Linked DNA regions of Homo sapiens. The protein of the gene in region 1 purifies or fractionates together with the protein of each later gene. This does not show direct contact. Each region holds a gene or a part of one and is shown in the gene's direction. Other genes may lie near its edges.

What was found.
Region 2: the proteins of PPIAL4G (region 1) and EHD2 purify together in Homo sapiens (affinity purification with mass spectrometry; one large-scale study listed by BioGRID and IntAct). This does not show direct contact.
Region 3: the proteins of PPIAL4G (region 1) and PCDHGA11 purify together in Homo sapiens (affinity purification with mass spectrometry; one large-scale study listed by BioGRID and IntAct). This does not show direct contact.

The regions. Positions count from the first base shown.
Region 1 is NC_000001.11:148,481,945-148,484,551, reverse strand, and holds PPIAL4G (peptidyl-prolyl cis-trans isomerase A-like 4G), read left to right. Parts: upstream 1-1,249; 5' UTR 1,250-1,299; coding exon 1,300-1,794; 3' UTR 1,795-2,004; downstream 2,005-2,607. UniProt on the Homo sapiens protein: PPIases accelerate the folding of proteins. It catalyzes the cis-trans isomerization of proline imidic peptide bonds in oligopeptides.
Region 2 is NC_000019.10:47,723,302-47,726,954, forward strand, and holds part of EHD2 (EH domain-containing protein 2), read left to right. Parts: intron 1-2,510; coding exon 2,511-2,923; intron 2,924-3,653. UniProt on the Homo sapiens protein: ATP- and membrane-binding protein that controls membrane reorganization/tubulation upon ATP hydrolysis. Plays a role in membrane trafficking between the plasma membrane and endosomes. Important for the internalization of GLUT4.
Region 3 is NC_000005.10:141,419,782-141,424,003, forward strand, and holds the start of PCDHGA11 (protocadherin gamma-A11 isoform 1 precursor), read left to right. Parts: upstream 1-1,269; 5' UTR 1,270-1,446; coding exon 1,447-3,879; coding exon of another isoform or gene 3,880-3,960; exon of another isoform or gene 3,961-4,222. Other genes in the region: PCDHGB7 (protocadherin gamma-B7 isoform 1 precursor), read left to right, coding at 1-493. UniProt on the Homo sapiens protein: Potential calcium-dependent cell-adhesion protein. May be involved in the establishment and maintenance of specific neuronal connections in the brain.

The DNA.
Region 1 (2,607 bases):
AAGGAATTTTGTAAATGGAATCTACCTTTATCCTTGAATTACATTTGCTTTACCTGACATCATTTTTCTCTGATCGCCACTCTCCACGGGTACATTGAATGCCTTATATATACTGCCATAATATCCTGTTCTACATCCTTCTATTAAAAGAACTTGTTGTATAACAAATGAGTAGATATTCATTGGACTCACCTGGTCCACCATTTATCCTATCACTAACCAAAATTATTATTATTATAGAATGGTGAATATTTTATTAAAGACTCAATCACAGTGCCAGCTGGAGACAATGGCTTATAAGGTTGTACTCATGCTAGAGGATGTGGTGGTGTATCCTCTGAACTAGTAACTAAGTATAAGCTTGTCTGGTGTCTCCCATATAAAAAATACAACAATCTTTGATATTTGTTATGAATGTTGAAGTGACTCCTTTTGTCATTACATCTAATGATCCACTCCAAATACTTATCTCTTGTCTCTGAGATTCTAGGTTTTTGCAGAATTAGTACCCAAAGGGAGAGTCTTAGCAGTATTCCATTTTACAATCCATCCTTCGTTAGAGGATGAGAGACTTCTATCTAGCCTTTTAGGTTGCCTGAGACCTTTAAAGAAACAGTCAAAAATTTAAAATTTAAAATGCGGCTACACTGTTGCATGGGGTAGTAAATCTTGACCTTAAAACTGGTATTTGTAAGAAAAACAGAAAGAATTCAGGGATCCCCTTTGATGGCTCCTAATTCTATACAGTCCTGTAAATATTCCTGAAGACTAACCAGGCGTGGTGGTGCACACCTGTAATCCCAGCTACTCCAGAGGCTGAGGAAGAGAATCACTTGAACCTGGGAGGCAGAGGTTGCAATGAGCTGAGATTGTGCCACTTCACTCCAGCCTGGGTGACAGAGCAAGACTCTGTCTCAAAAAAAAAAAAAAAAAAAAAGAAGAAAGAAAGAAAGAAAGAAAGAAAGAAAGAAAGAAAGAAAGAAAGAAAGAAAGAAATGAAGACTGCCACAACTTGGAAGCAACCAAGATGTCCTTCAATGAGTGACTGCATAAGCAAACTGTGGTATATTCCTACAGTGGAATATTATTCAGTGCTAAAAGGAAAAAACTATCAAGCCACAAAAAGATACAGAAAAAACAAAGACATTTTGCTAAGTGAAAGAAGCCAGTCTGAAAAGGGTACATACTGTGATTTCAACTATACGACATTCTAGAAAAGGCCAAACTATAAAGACAGTAAAAAGATCAGTGGTTATCTTTGCAGACGCCGCCATCGCTGTGAGCCCTGTACTATCAGCCATGGTCAACTCCGTCATCTTTTTTGACATCACCGTCGACGGCAAGCCCTTGGGCCGCATCTCCATCAAACAGTTTGCAGACAAGATTCCAAAGACAGCAGAAAACTTTCGTGCTCTGAGCACTGGAGAGAAAGGATTTCGTTATAAGGGTTCCTGCTTTCACAGAATTATTCCAGGGTTTATGTGTCAGGGTGGTGACTTCACACACCCTAATGGCACCGGTGACAAGTCCATCTATGGGGAGAAATTTGATGATGAGAACCTCATCCGAAAGCATACAGGTTCTGGCATCTTGTCCATGGCAAATGCTGGACCCAACACAAATGGTTCCCAGTTTTTCATCTGCACTGCCAAGACTGAGTGGTTGGATGGCAAGCATGTGGCCTTTGGCAAGGTGAAAGAACGTGTGAATATTGTGGAAGCCATGGAGCACTTTGGGTACAGGAATAGCAAGACCAGCAAGAAGATCACCATTGCTGACTGTGGACAATTCTAATGAGTTTGACTTGTGTTTTATTTTCACCACCAGACCCATTCCTTCTGTAGCTCAGGAGAGCACCCCTCCACCACATTTGCTTGCAATATCCTAGAATCTTTGTGCTCTTGCTGCAGTTCCCTTTGGGTTCCATGTTTTCCTTGTTCCCTTCCATGCCTAGCTGGATTGCAGAGTTAAGTTTATGATTATGAAATAAAAACTAAGTAACAACAACAACAACAAAAAAGCTCAGTGGTTGCCAGGAGTTTGGGGATGGGTAGGGAGATAAATAGTTCTGAAACAGGCGATTTTTAGGGGATTGAAAATACGTTGGTAATAATGTAATGATGGGTACATGACATTATGCGTTTTGCAAAACTCCTAGACCTGTACCACACAAAGAGTGAACCCTAATGTAAACTGGGGGTGGGATAAAGGTGACAGTATGTGAGAACTCTGTACTTTCTGCTCGATCTTTCCATAAAGCTAAAACTGCTCAAAAAATAAAGTCTATTATTTTGTTAAATGAAAGAAATTAACAATGACCATGGCACGCTCACACAAAAAGATTATCAAGGACATTTCTCTGTCAGGAATGAATATTTGGTCATCTCACAAGGCAAAACCCTGACTAGCAGAGGTGTTAGCTGAGGGCACATGGCCATAGATGCCAATAGTGACCTGCTGGCCACTTGCAGAAAGGAGAGCCTTGACATCCAAACACATTGTTTCTCTTGTATTGTCCTGTGCATACTTATGTATCTTAACAACTTTCCTTCTTTCCTCTCCATTTATCCCTCTTTTTAAAACAGGGCTTATTGAGGGTGATTAACT
Region 2 (3,653 bases), on another chromosome or scaffold:
ACCGTACATCCAGCACTGTTTTTAAAAAAACAGTTTCATTGAGGATTAACGTACACGCCATAAAAACTCAACCATTATGGCCGGGCTCAGTGGCTCATGCCTGTAATCTCAGCACTTTGGGAGGCTGAGGTGGGCGGATAATGAGGTCAAGAGATGGAGACCATCCTGGCCAACATGGTGAAAACCCATCTCTACTAAAAATACAGAAATTAGCTGGGTGTGGTGGCACCTGTAATCCCAGCTACTCGGGAGGCTGAGGCAGGAGAATTGCTTGAACTCGAGAGGCAGAGGTTGCAGTGACCTGAGATCGCGCCACTGCACTCCAACCTGGGCGACAGCGAGACTCCGTCTGAAAAAAAAAAAAAAAAAAAAGCTCAACCATTTTTTTTTTTAAAGAGACAAGGTCTTGCTCTGTCTGCAGGCTGGAGTGCAATGACGCAATCATGGCTCACTGCAGCCTCCAACTGCTGGGCTCAAGTGATCCTCTTGCTTCCTCCTCCTGAGTAGCTGAGACTACAGATGCATGCCAACATGTGTGGATAATTTTTTATTTTATTTTTTTCTGTAGAGACAGGGTCTTGTCATCTTGCCCAGGCTGGTCTCAAACTCCCAGGCTCAAGCGATCCTCCTGCCTCTACCTCCCAAAGTGCTGGGATTACAGGTGTGAGCCACTCTGTCTGGCCACTTCCATCATTTTTAAATGTACAGTTCAATGCCAGGCATTATTTTAAGCTCTTTATATATATTAGCTCATTTATATTCTTTTAATCTTCACAACAGTCTTTTTTTTTTTTTGAGACAGAGTCTCACTCTGTCGCCCAGACTGGAGTGCAGTGATGCTATCTCGGCTCACTGCAACCTCTGCCTCCCAGGCTCAAGCGATTCTCGTGCCTCAGCCTTCTGAATATGTGGGACCATAGGCATGAGCCACCAACACCGGGCTAATTTTTTTGTATTTTTAGGGCTAGGCTGGTCTTGAACTCCTGGCCTCAATTGATCTGCCCACTTCAGCCTCCCAAAGTGCTGGGATTACAGGTTTGAGCCATCACACCTGGCTTCACAACAGTCCTATGATTTGCATTTTACAGAAAAGAAAACACAAGTTCAGAGAGGTTAAGCTACTTGCCTAAGGTCACACAGTGGATGGGGGCAGAGGAGGGACTCAACTCCAGGTCTTCCAGACAGCTAAGTCAGGGGGTCTCAATCGCTTCTCTCTGCTCTCCTCAGCATTGCTTGTTGGTGAATAAATGAGTGAAGAAGCAAAGGTGAGAATGAGTGGATGAAGGAGTGAATGAGGAAATGAATGGTGAAAGGAATGAATGAATGAGCATGGGAACCCATGGCTGGGATGGGTGCTTCATAAGAGCAAGAATCTTGTCTGTGTGTTCTCTGCGGTATCCCAGGCTCCCAGGACAGGGCTTGGCACACATGAGACTCTCAGTAAGTATTGCTAAATAAATGCAAAATATTTAACTTCTCAGCCTGGCCAACATGGTGAAACCCCGTCTCTACTAAAAATACAGAAATTAGCCAGGGTGGTGGTGCATGCCTGTAATCCCAGCTACTCGGGAGGCTGAGGCAGGAGAATTGCTTGAACCTGGGAGGTGGAGGTGGAGGTTGCAGTGAGCCACATTCATGCCACTGCACTCCAGCCTGGGCGACAGAGTGAGACTCTGTCTCAAAAAAAAAAAAAAAAAAAAAAAAAAAAAAAAAAAAAATTATCATCTGCTATGGCAAGAGCACAGCTATCCAGCATGAACTCTAGTTGCTGGATCGTGGGGAGATACAACAGGTCCTGGGGAGGAGCTGGGGTGATAGAGGCATGTGGCAGGCTTGGGGGTTCCATAGAAGCACAGGGGGATCTCTTAGCAAACATGTCAGTATTTTTAACAACCTATATGTACATACCGACGCACACCTGTAATAACTGCTTAATGAATGAGCAAATGAAAAAATGGAGGCCGTGAGGCTGGGCGCGGTGGCCCACGCCTGTAATCCCAACATTTTGGAGGCTGAGGCAGGAGGATCAGTTGAGCTCAGGAGTTTGAGACTAGCCCGGCAGCCCGGGTAACATAGTGAGATCCCATCTCTACTCAAAAAAAAAAAAAAAAAAAAAAATTAGCCAGGTGTGGTGATGCGCGCCTGCAGTCCCAGCTACTAGGGAGGCTGAGGTGGGAGGATCACCTGAGCTCCGGGAAGCAGAGGTTGCAGGGAGGCGTGATCCCGCCATTGTGCTCGAGCAAAGGAAAAGGGGGATGATTGCCCCCTGTAGCCAGATGGCTTGAGGGGCTGGGGCCAGAGCGAGGGGGGAAATTCTGGGCACTGGAGAGCCAGAGCAGTAGTGCCCACTGAGGGCCTTGGCTATTTTGCCCAGACAGGATTTGGACAGCCAACAACGTGAACATCTTTACAGTCCAATATGCAAGAGAATGGGATACTACTGAGAATGGCTGGAGGGTGGGGGTCTGATTTCTGCCCCTTGCGCCCCTGTCTCTCCACTCCCACTCCAGGCTACGACTTCCCGGCCGTGCTGCGCTGGTTCGCGGAGCGCGTGGACCTCATCATCCTGCTCTTTGATGCGCACAAGCTGGAGATCTCGGACGAGTTCTCAGAGGCCATCGGCGCGTTGCGGGGCCATGAGGACAAGATCCGCGTGGTGCTCAACAAGGCCGACATGGTGGAGACGCAGCAGCTGATGCGCGTCTACGGCGCGCTCATGTGGGCGCTGGGCAAGGTGGTGGGCACGCCCGAGGTGCTGCGCGTCTACATCGGCTCCTTCTGGTCCCAGCCCCTCCTCGTGCCCGACAACCGGCGCCTCTTCGAGCTGGAGGAGCAGGACCTCTTCCGCGACATCCAGGGCCTGCCCCGGCACGCAGCCTTGCGCAAGCTCAACGACCTGGTGAAGAGGGCCCGGCTGGTGCGAGTGAGTAGTCCTGAGGGCTGGGCGCGCATTCTTGGAGGAGGTTTCCTCGGTCCTCTCCTACCAGTGCTGTGAGTCCCTGACTTATCAGGGCCCAGGTTAGTTAGTTCTCTTGAAGTTGGGTCATTCTGGCACAGAGTGAAGCCGGGAGGAAGAACTGTATGGAGAGACTCATTCCTCTGCCTTTGGATTTCTGTGTCAACTCCGTGTCACCCTGGCTTCTCTGTCCTGGTATTTCTATTTCTTCTTCCTCTTCCTCCTCCTCCTCCTTCTCTTCTTCTTCTTCCTCTTTTTCTTCTTTCTTCTCTCTTTCCTCCTCCTCCTCTTCTTCTCCCTCCTCCTCCTCCTTCTTCTCTTTCTTCCTCCCCTTCCTCCTTCCTTCCTTCCTTCCTCTGTTCCTCTCTCCCTTCCTCCCTCCTCCCTTCCTCCTTCCTTACATCCTCTTTCGTTCCCTCTTCTTCCTTCTTTTTTAAGAGATGGAGTCTCGCTCTCTTGCCCTGGCTGGAATGCAATGATGCAATCACAGCTCACCACAGCCTTGAACTCCTGGGCTCAAGTGATCCTTCCTCCTTAGCCTGCCCCAAGTAGCTGAGACCACAGGCACGTGTCACCACGCCCAGCTAATTTTTTATTTTTTGTAGAGTCGAGGTCTTACTGTGTTGCCCAGGCTGGTCTTGAACTCCTGCCCTCAAGTGATCCTCCCCTTTTGGCCTCCCAAAGTGCTGGGATTGCA
Region 3 (4,222 bases), on another chromosome or scaffold:
CCTGCTAGTCGCTGTAAGAGATGGAGGACAGCCACCCCTTTCAGCCACTGCCACGCTGCACCTGGTGTTCGCAGATAGCTTGCAAGAGGTACTGCCGGATTTCAGCGACCATCCCACACCCTCTGACTCCCAGGCTGAGATGCAGTTTTACCTGGTGGTGGCCTTGGCCTTGATTTCTGTGCTCTTTCTCCTCGCGGTGATTCTAGCTATTGCTCTACGCCTGCGACAGTCTTTCAGCCCTACTGCAGGAGACTGCTTTGAGTCAGTTCTCTGCTCCAAGTCCGGACCTGTGGGTCCCCCCAACTACAGTGAGGGAACGTTGCCCTATGCCTATAATTTTTGTGTGCCTGGGGATCAAATGAATCCAGAATTTAATTTTTTCACATCTGTTGATCATTGTCCAGCCACACAAGATAACCTCAACAAAGATAGCATGCTACTGGCTAGCATTTTAACTCCCAGCGTTGAAGCAGATAAGAAGATTCTTAAACAGGTAAGTATTTAAAAATGTATTTAATCCTTTTTATATTACAATATGCCAATATATTCCAATATAGTGGTATTATTTTAAGATTCTAGATAACTTCTTCATAGAGTTCGCAAAATATAGGTCAAATTTATGGTTATCATTATTAAAACAAAAGTTTAAATTAAATGCCTCAGTCTTCCTACTATTCAAAGACATTTTAAAGCAAACTACATGGGTAATCTCCGGTGACATTTTTATGAAGTAAAATACCTTTCGGTTAAAAATATAAAATACAGGTATATTTTTACGGCATGGTATTTTAATTGAAACCCTGATGCTACTCAATTTTTCTCAAGTATTTCATCTTCATTTACTCAATAAAGGAACCTTGTAAGAATTATAGTTAGGCATCCTACCTGATGATTTTATCGGGACCGTATTATTTCCACTTCCAGAAATGTCGTTCCTTTCAGTCGGTTAAAATCAATTGGAACCAACTACAACCTACAAGTTTTCAGCTCCAGTAATATTTTGAAAACTTTTTAAAAATTAAGCAAGCCCTTTTAATAATTACTCCTTTCGCAGGTGTTCTTGGTAAAGTTTTAACGTCACATAATGTAAGTATTGTGTATCATCGTTTTTAAGCTCTACAAATACGTGTGATTCACAAAGGTGAGCGTAATCATTTCTTCTGGAATTTCTTAGTCGTTGCAATAATAAGAATGGGCTCTAGGCGCCGCTGCTCACCAATCAGGGAATGGGAAGCTGCGCGCCATTGAGTCCCTCCCTCCCCCGCCTCTACCACACAAAGCGGAATGAGATGGATACTCACAGATCCTGACACTGGAGACTTAGAAGTATTTTCCTTCGCTTTCTGATATATTTTGGATGTAGTCGGCCTAGGACTTCATAGATACATAAGCCGATTCACAACCAACCAGCTCGAGAAACCGCGGAATATCGGCTTAGAGCCTGCCATGGCGAATCGGCTACAGCGCGGGGACCGCAGTCGGCTGCTGCTGCTGCTGTGCATTTTCCTGGGGACGCTGCGGGGGTTCCGGGCCAGGCAGATCCGATATTCGGTGCCAGAAGAGACCGAAAAGGGCTCCTTCGTGGGCAATATCTCCAAGGACCTGGGGCTGGAGCCCCGGGAGCTGGCGAAGCGCGGAGTCCGCATCGTCTCCAGAGGGAAGACACAGCTTTTCGCTGTGAATCCGCGAAGCGGCAGCTTGATCACGGCAGGCAGGATAGACCGGGAGGAGCTCTGTGAGACGGTGTCCTCCTGTTTTTTAAATATGGAACTTCTCGTGGAAGACACCTTGAAGATTTACGGAGTGGAGGTGGAAATAATAGATATTAATGATAACGCCCCCAGCTTCCAGGAGGACGAAGTGGAGATAAAAGTCAGTGAGCACGCAATTCCTGGGGCGCGATTTGCTCTTCCTAATGCTAGGGATCCAGATGTGGGCGTGAACTCCCTCCAGAGCTACCAGCTCAGCCCTAATAATTACTTTTCCTTGCAACTGCGGGGCAGAACGGATGGGGCCAAGAATCCAGAGCTAGTACTGGAGGGAAGCCTGGACCGAGAGAAAGAGGCTGCTCACCTGCTCCTCCTCACAGCTTTAGATGGAGGCGATCCCATCCGAAAGGGCGCAGTTCCCATTCGTGTGGTGGTCCTCGATGTAAATGATCACATCCCAATGTTTACACAGTCCGTATATCGCGTGAGTGTTCCAGAAAACATCAGCTCCGGAACTCGGGTGCTGATGGTTAATGCAACGGATCCAGACGAGGGAATCAACGGGGAAGTAATGTATTCATTTCGGAACATGGAAAGCAAGGCTTCTGAAATATTCCAATTGGATTCACAAACTGGAGAAGTTCAAGTACGGGGGTCTCTGGATTTTGAAAAATATAGATTCTATGAGATGGAAATTCAAGGCCAAGATGGTGGAGGTCTCTTTACCACCACGACGATGTTGATCACTGTTGTGGATGTGAATGATAACGCTCCAGAAATAACTATCACCTCTTCTATTAATTCAATTCTGGAAAACTCTCCTCCAGGTACAGTGATTGCTCTTCTAAATGTGCAAGATCAAGATTCTGGAGAAAATGGTCAAGTCTCCTGTTTTATTCCTAACCACCTGCCTTTTAAATTAGAAAAGACTTATGGAAATTATTACAAATTGATAACAAGCAGAGTGCTGGACAGGGAGTTGGTCCAGAGCTACAATATAACGTTGACAGCCACAGACCAGGGAAGCCCGCCTTTGTCTGCAGAAACTCATGTCTGGCTGAATGTGGCAGATGACAACGATAACCCTCCCGTTTTTCCTCACTCCTCTTACTCTGCCTACATTCCCGAAAACAACCCCAGGGGTGCCTCCATCTTCTCAGTGACCGCCCTCGACCCGGACAGCAAACAGAATGCCCTGGTCACTTACTCTCTGACGGATGACACTGTCCAGGGGGTGCCTCTGTCCTCCTATGTCTCTATTAACTCCAACACTGGTGTTCTCTATGCCCTACAATCCTTCGACTATGAGCAGTTTCGAGACTTAGAACTGAGAGTGATAGCACGTGACAGCGGGGACCCGCCCCTCAGCAGCAACGTGTCGCTGAGCCTGTTCGTGCTGGACCAGAACGACAATGCGCCCGAGATCCTGTACCCTGCCCTCCCCACAGACGGCTCCACTGGCGTGGAGCTGGCGCCCCGCTCTGCGGAACCTGGCTACCTGGTGACCAAGGTGGTTGCGGTGGACAAAGATTCAGGCCAGAACGCCTGGCTGTCCTATCGCCTGCTTAAGGCCAGCGAGCCGGGACTCTTCGCGGTGGGGGAGCACACGGGCGAGGTGCGTACAGCGCGGGCACTGCTGGACAGAGACGCGCTCAAGCAGAGCCTCGTGGTGGCCGTCCAGGACCACGGCCAGCCCCCTCTCTCGGCCACCGTCACGCTCACCGTGGCTGTGGCCGACAGCATCCCCGAAGTCCTGGCGGACCTCGGCAGCCTCGAGTCTCTGGCTAACTCTGAAACCTCAGACCTCTCGCTGTACTTGGTGGTGGCGGTGGCCGCAGTCTCCTGCATCTTCCTGGTCTTTGTCATCGTGCTGCTGGCACTCAGGCTGTGGCGCTGGCATAAGTCACGCCTGCTGCAGGCTTCTGAAGGCGGGTTGGCAGGTATGCCCACGTCACATTTTGTAGGCGTGGACGGGGTACAGGCTTTCCTGCAAACCTATTCCCACGAGGTCTCTCTCATTGCGGACTCGCAGAAGAGTCACCTGATTTTCCCCCAGCCCAACTATGGGGACACGCTCATCAGCCAGGAGAGCTGTGAGAAAAGCGAGCCACTCTTGATAGCTGAAGACTCAGCTATCATTTTAGGCAAATGTGACCCGACAAGTAATCAGGTGAGATTTATTTCTCTGCCTCCTAATTGTTGGTGTCTTGGCACAAGTCTTTTAAGGAGATGTTTTTTGAGCCTGTTATGAAAACTGTTTGGGGGGGGGGTGGGGCGGCATATATTTAGTTCATATATATTTAGAGCAATACATGTGAGTTTTACTTTGCCTTTCATGAGATTACGATAATCTTTCAGAACGTTTTTGTGAAAGTCATTTTTCAATCTTGGCATATTTTCTTTTGATTTCAAAGGGGCCATTCAACTATGCTGGTTTGGTTTGAAGTAAGTTGAATTTTAGTATTATTTTTCTATTATCAGTGTATGAGGCTCTCAATTTATTATATATAGAT